Homo sapiens: one gene and its partner. The protein of the gene in region 2 purifies or fractionates together with the protein of the main gene of each other region. This does not show direct contact. Each region holds a gene or a part of one and is shown on either strand. Other genes may lie near its edges. The genes, in order: EEA1 and SAMD9L.

What was found.
Region 1: the proteins of SAMD9L (region 2) and EEA1 purify together in Homo sapiens (co-immunoprecipitation; one study listed by IntAct). This does not show direct contact.

The regions. Positions count from the first base shown.
Region 1 is NC_000012.12:92,852,688-92,856,511, forward strand, and holds part of EEA1 (early endosome antigen 1), read right to left. Parts: intron 1,268-3,824; coding exon 1,228-1,267; intron 339-1,227; coding exon 225-338; intron 1-224. UniProt on the Homo sapiens protein: Binds phospholipid vesicles containing phosphatidylinositol 3-phosphate and participates in endosomal trafficking.
Region 2 is NC_000007.14:93,138,198-93,142,021, forward strand, and holds part of SAMD9L (sterile alpha motif domain-containing protein 9-like), read right to left. Parts: intron 1-3,824. UniProt on the Homo sapiens protein: May be involved in endosome fusion. Mediates down-regulation of growth factor signaling via internalization of growth factor receptors.

The DNA of each region.
Region 1 (3,824 bases), on a different chromosome or scaffold from region 2:
AGAAGAATCTACAAAGAAACACCAGTCCTTTGAAGGCAGGCAGCTAGAGGACAAACAAAATAATTTACATAGCAACTCTGAAATCATTAAATTCCATTAATCACCATTGGAAGTCTATCACAAATGCTTTAACACACTAAAATACTATATTTATTGCTAGGGTATATAATGGCAAAAAGGTAATGAGATTGATTTATTGGCTAAAAAATTCTAACTCAATTTACCTGCAATTTCAGTAGCAAGTTGGGCTGCTTTCTGTTCAAATAAGTCTTTCATTTGCTTAATATTAAAATTTTCTGTTTGGGCTTCTTCTAATTGCTGTTCCAAAGACTGTAGTTCTACAAAAAAGTGTCGCAGTTATTCAAATACCATGTTAATTACATATGCTAAATTGTTATTACTTATATTTATTACAGTTGTAAAGATGATCAACTTAAGTTTATTATCCAATTACAAGTAGTATTTTGACACTTCAAGAAATTAAGTATATCTGCTTCACTTAAGGTACAAATCATAATTTACAAACATACACTACAAATGAAATGAATATTTAGAATCACTGCTAAATAATCTATAAATATTTTATTACAAGTTATTTTGATTTCACATTTCACAGTTATTTTCCCATATCCATCAAATGACCAAAAAGGAATACACCCCTTATCTTTTTTTTAAGAGATGGGGTCTCGCTATGTTACGGAGGCTGATCTTAAATTCCTGGGTTCAAGCCATCCTCCCCTATCAGTATCCCAAAGTGTTGGGATTATAGGCATGAGCCACCAAGCCTGGCTCAAAAAGGAAAACATTCTGCTCCTCTGATAAAATTAGTTATAAAGCGGGATGTTGGAAATGGTTAAGATCTCAAGGCCTTTTAATTCATTAAAGTATGCAGTCAACTCCTAATACTTCATCATAAAGAAAATAAACTATCTTACTCTTAATATAGACTTAAAATTTCATTAAACAACCATATTAATGTAATATTCCAGAAGTTTCTTACTTCAAAATATAATGAACTAAAAAAACTAAACTTTTAGTTAACTGATTAAATTATGAAGTTCACATGTAACTCTCTACACCTAGAATATGACCATTATCTTCACTGTTTTAGAGTCATAAAGCATAACCATGAAACAAAATTCATTTGGCAGGCATCAAAGAAAAAGAAAGGAAAACAAATAAGAAGAAAAAGAAAACTGACAAAATATCTGCTTTAAGTAAAGTTACCTGCTGATGAATCAGTCACCAACCCATCAGGTTTGGCCTCCTCAATTAAAACAAAAGACATAAACAAATGAATTAAAAGGAAAAGATAATACTGTTAAAATGGTCAATGTTAAAAAATCTCTGAAAGTCACTTTCTTTCAGGTAAGTAGTAAGATTTTGGTGAAAATTTAAATTTGGTGGTTTCCATTCTTCCAGATCTGTAAGAGACCAGCAGGCAGACTAGCCTAATGATCTAACTTCAGTTTATTAGTTCTAACATAGATTTTTTTGTATGTTAATATATATGAAGTTATTATGGTCATCTTAAATTCCATGAATTCAGTAATAAATAAATAGCACAATTATTGTAATTATAAATATAGATTCTAAAACAAATACTTAAGTCAACTGGCAACATTCAATCGTATTAGTATGTAGCTTTGAAATAACTTCTAACACTAACATAGTTTGCTACATGGATGCTACATATTTTGCTGTCATAAGAACTTGGAGTGTTATCCCCCTCCGCTCAAGCATGTAATACCTGTTAGACCCCATATGTGAGAACTTGGAATGAACTTCTCCTCTCTTCAGTAGTATTACATCAGACCTTATCATACCGCAGATCTGAGCTACTGACCTCAACTACTGGACTTCAAAATACATATTAACCAAAGAGTTTGAAAGATACTTTGAAAGCTTAGGCCATGGCAGGCTGCACTTTTTCAGCTGCTTTCTTTGAGACTGGCAGCTCATGCTGCAATAGGGCCATATCCTATTGGCCTTAGATCTTTGAGTCTCGGCAGCCAACACCTACATCTCCTCTAGCAGCAGGAGATCCCCATTGTCTGGGATCTCCACTGTTTTGGATGCCATCTCTCCAGAGAGACTGCTCATAAAAAAAGGTACACCTCAACCCTTTTAGACTTTACTTTTCACAAAAGCCTGCTTCCATCCTGAGAAAGTGACTAGACTTTAATAATTTTGGAACTCACCCACTATATGGTTAATATACCTCATCTATTGATATTCCCTGTAAGATTTGTTCATGTTATTTCTCTCCCTTTTAAGCACTGTGAACCGAAGAAAATCTCTCTTTGGCAATAAACCATGCAATTCATGAAATCATACTTCAAATCATGCTTCTTATTACAATCAAACAGAACACCTATAATAGTTGAACATTTGCATTAGTTAAAACATGCTATCAAGCTATCACTACTAAAACTTGCATTAGTTAAAACATCCTATCACGGCCGGGCGCGGTGGCTCACGCCTGTAATCCCAGCACTTTGGGAGGCCGAGACGGACGGATCACGAGGTCAGGAGATCGAGACCATCCTGGCTAATATGGTGAAACCCCGTCTCTACTAAAAATACAAAAAATTAGCCGGCCTGATGGCGGACGTGCCTGTAGTCCCAGCTACTAGGAAGGCTGAGGCAGGAGAATGCTGTGAACATGGGAGGCGGAGCTTGCAGTGAGCCGAGATCGCGCGCCACTGCACTCCAGCCTGGGTGACAGAGCGAGACTCTGTCTCAAAAAAAAAAAAAAAAAAAATGCTATCAAACTATCACTACTAAAAAAATTGGCTTTATAAGCATAAATTTTTAATTCAGGACAAGTCAACTTTAAAAGAAGCAGAAATAACAGATTCCATAAGGCTTAATTTGTCACATGTATTAGGAACAAAATAATATACTACCTTGGCATTATTTTTATATTTTAAAGAATTATACCCATCTGAAAGAGTTTAATAAGGCATTTCCTAGTATATCTGACTTTTTGTTTCTCTATACATTGAACTAAGACATACTGATTGCTAAGAACCTTAAGTATTTAAAATATATTTTCCCCAAAAGGTAAATTTCCTGCCAAGGTAACTTACATCTTGCACTGTGGAAAAGTTATTTAAGTGTATTAAATGTGAAATAGTCATCTCAAATGCAGTAAACAATTTCCACTCTGCTTTCAGATACAGAAAAGAATACAGCCCATACTCAATTAATTATTAATGGCATCTATATAAAACATGAGTAAATGAGTTATAAGTAATTTGGATTACTAAAAACTCCTTTAATGTTAACAGAATCACCAATTAGAAAAGCTGAGTAGTAATAAGACTGATTATCTTGTCATTTATTTATTTGTTTTTGTCTTTTTCAGTCCAACTGCCAATTCTTGGTGCAAAGGCTTTAAAAAGCAAACAAGCCTCACTGAAAGTCACAATATGCCAAGATAACATGCAAAGGGATTATTAATTACTTTACAAAAATATTAGAACTATTGCTGAAGGGTAACTACTTTTATTCTTACAAATGATGACTATGGTAAAATTATTTGGTAAAACTTCGTTAATCTTTGATTCTTCCTATAATTTCAGAATAAAATCAATATAATTTCAGCATAAAAATCATAATTAAGGCATTTACTTAGAAAATACACTAAACTATATAGAATCTAAGACATCAAAAAAATCCTATTCAAAGAGAACCACTTTTGATACTGCAGTGATTTTCTTCTGTTTTTCTCTATGTATTATTTTTATGTAAAGTCATACAGAATATGAGTGTGTGTGCATGTATGTACAAATACACATTTTTTAGTTTTTTAAAAACTT
Region 2 (3,824 bases):
AAGTCACTTGTGGGTCTTAAGGAGTCCCACAAAAATTAGCCCATATATTGTAACTAGCGATAAGTGTTATTTATCTTAAGTAGTGTCATCTGTTCATTCATTCTACACATATTTAATGAGCACCAATTATGTACCAGGCATCATGCTCAGGAAAAACAGTGATAATCAAAACAGATGTGAAGCTCGTTCATGACATTTATTGTCCATTGGAGAAGATAAAAAAAGGAAATAAGTCACACACACACACACACACTCAGAAAAGTTTGTACTGACAAAGTGTGGTAGTGCTTTTTGTCAGACACAAGAAGGAGTCTAGGCCTAGGATATATGAGGAAGAAGAGAGTGGGAACATTGGGCAGGTGAAGTTAAGGGAACTGCTGGAGTCATGTGGGAGGCAATTGAGGGAGAAAGCCTGGGGGACAGAGTTAGGGAATAAGAAATAGTCTACTTGGTGGACCTGCCAAAGGCCCCTTTAGTGGGTCTAAGGGGTATGACATAGCGCTGTTCCAGCAGTGGGCAGCTCCTACTCTTGCACCCAGAGCCAGGGCACTGGGCCTGCCATAGAGTACTCCAGGGCAGATGGAGCTTGGGAGCCCGGTAGGCTCATCCCTGATATTCCCATCTCTCTGCCGAGGCCCTAAGTGTCATCTCAGGTAAGACCGACAGAGGGGCCCTGCCTCACCTTTTTACAAGCATTATATAAAACCAATAGTATAAGCAGTTATTAATAAACATATCCTTAATGAAAACTTTTTTGAAGTCATTACATATGAGATAACTACCATAGTATTTTAAATCTTAGTCTTAAGATATTTCATACTTTGAAAATTTGCTGAATACTTACTTTTTATATATTTTATACAGTTTTTAGACATTTTAATATATTTTGTATTAAATACATTTTGTATTAAAATGTAGGAAGCTGAAGGGAAGAGGACACTTGTGTCCTCAGATACCATTTCTGTCATAATTATTGGTGGCTCAATAGACATGTCATTGATCCTTCCAATACAATGGCCTCTCACCCGATCGACTTTTATCTTGACATCAACCCACCTCTATTCCCACGGTCATATCCTTGACCTTATCATTACTATTATGGATTGAATTATATCGCGCCAAAGTTCAGGCACTGAAGTCCTAACCTCCAGCACCTTAGAATGTGACTTTATTTGGAGACAGGATTGTTGTAGATGTAATTAGTTGACATGAAGTTATAGTGGACCCTAATCCAATATGACTGAGGTTTTTGTGAAAAGGGGAAACTTGGGCACAGAGGCTTGCTTACACACCGGGAGAACAGTATGTGAAGACGAAGGCAGAGGTTAGTGTGATGTTTCTACAAGCCAAGAATCACCAAAGATTGCCAGCATGCTACTGTGAGAGGCATGGAAGAAATTCTCCCTTGCAGCCCTCAGAAGGAACCCTCCCTGCCAATAGCTTGATCTTGGACTTCTAGTTGCAAGGGTTCTGAGATAATACATTTCTGTTGTTGAAGTGACTCTGTGCTACTTTGTTATGGCAGCTCTAGCCAATAAATACGGTTACTGAGAACTACAAGCCCTCCGTCCTCTCTGTTTCAAACACTTCCCTGTCCCCACCATCTCCTGCCCCTCAGACCCACTGCCTTTAGTGCTCAAACACTAGTAAGTATTTCTTTACCACCAACACCTTTGATCTATTGATTCTACTACTGTCTCACTTTTCCTCACTCCATTCATGTTTCACTTTTCCTCTTTTACTGACTTAATATTTCTTTGATTATTCATTATCATGACTTATTTTTCTCCTCTCTGGTACACTCTTATAGTTAAACTACAATGCTAGTTACATCCACCACTCAGTCCCCACTCAGTCCCCACTCAGTCCCCAACAGCTTGTCAGAGCATGGCTGGAGAATGGCCCTCCATACCCTGACTGGAACATGGCTGGACAATGGCCCTCTGCACCCTGACTGGAGCATGCTGGACAATGGCCCTCCATACCCTGACTGGAACATGGTTGGACAATGGGCCTCCACACTGACTGGAGCATGCTGAACAATGGCCCTTCATACTCTGACTGGAGCATGCTGGACAATGGCCCTCCACACCCTGACTGGAACATGGCTGGACAATGACCCTCCACACCCTAACTGGAGCATGCTGGACAGTGGCCCTCCATACCCTGACTGGAGAATTGCTGGACAATGGCCCTCCACACCCTGACTGGAACATGGCTGGACAATGGCCCTCCATACCATGACTGGTCTCACCTTAATGCTGTCAGCTACCATGCTTTATTTCTCTGCGTTAGTCAACCTCTTCACTTGCAGTAGTCACTCTCTTATTCTCCTAAACAATCATTTCACTGTCTCTCCTCTCTCATCAAACTTACAACACCTCCTCACCACGGTCACCTTGTTTCCCATTTAAACCGGCAGAATTGAAGGAATCCAAAGAGAGCTTCTCCAAACTCCTGAAACCACATCTACCCATCAACCTGCGTCTTCACTTTTCTTCTGTTACTACATCATATGTTAGTTTCTGTTCTCTGCATGTTCTGCCCACATGCCTAGTGAGGTCAACCTCTCCACTTGCAGTAGCCCTTGCATCCCTCTCACCTATTCAGGAAGTTGCTCCAGAAAGTGTCCCCACTCTATTTGGCTTCTTCAGTCTTTCCTCATCTACTAGATCTCCTTCAGCAATCAAGCATGTTTATTTTTTTCATGTTAAGCAAGACTCTTTGGAAACAACTCTTCCCCACATTTGTGCTTTTCTTCACAGTAGATCTGTCTACACTTTCTGTTTCCTGTTTCTCTTCTTCCACTCACTTTAGAAGGCACTCCAATCAGGCTTTGGCCTCACTCCTCCACTAAAATTGCACTTGGTATTGCTACAGACAGTTCTTGACAGAACAGCAGCACTTGAAACAAGTGATTGCTCTCTTTTCCTTGGATCACTCTCCTTGCAGGCTTTTGGGACACTACCTTTCCTGATTTTTCCTCCTCCTTTTCTGGCTAGTCCTTCTCAGTTTCCTCTGCTGGTTCTTCCTTAACTCTCCACCTCTAAATGTTGACGTGCCTCTCAGACCTAGCCTCTTTTCTATCTAGAGTTTTATCTAGAGTTTCTCCCTATGAATCTCATCTATCTTGCATTTAAACGCAATCTGTATGCCTGTGACTTCCAAATTAACATGATCGGCCCTGGCTTCTGCCATGATGTCCATATATCTGCCTTCTCTATGTTCACCTAGGTATATGACAGTCCTAAAACGAACATGGCCAAAATTGATCTCCTGATATATGCCCCTCCCACTCCAAACTTGCTCCTCCTACAGTCTTATCAGTTAATGGAACTTGTCAATTGTTCAAGGCAAAAACCTTGGCAGCATTTTTTACTGCTTTTTTTTTCACTCATTGTATTAGCAAATACTTTCAATCACACCTTCACAGTATATCCATAATTCCACCCTTTCCCACTATCCCTACTGCTACCACCCTGTTCTAGGCCATCATCTCTTTCCTGGATTATTTTTGTTACCTGGTCTCTTTGACTCTGGCTTTGCCCCACCACCATGCCATTCACTCTATTTTCAACACAACAGCCAACCTGGTCCTGTTCAAAAGTGTAAGTGTGATCATGTCACTGACTCTTAGTCAGTGTCCTCTGCTCAAAACTTTTATCTGACTTCTCATCTCGCATGGAGTAAAAGCCAAAGTCCTTAAATAAGGTCTGACATGATATGTCCACCCCACTGTCTTTTTGACCTCATTACTTCTGCTCACTTCCCTCCAGCTGCCCAGTTGTCTTACTGTTCCTCAAACATGGCAGCCATGCAGCTAC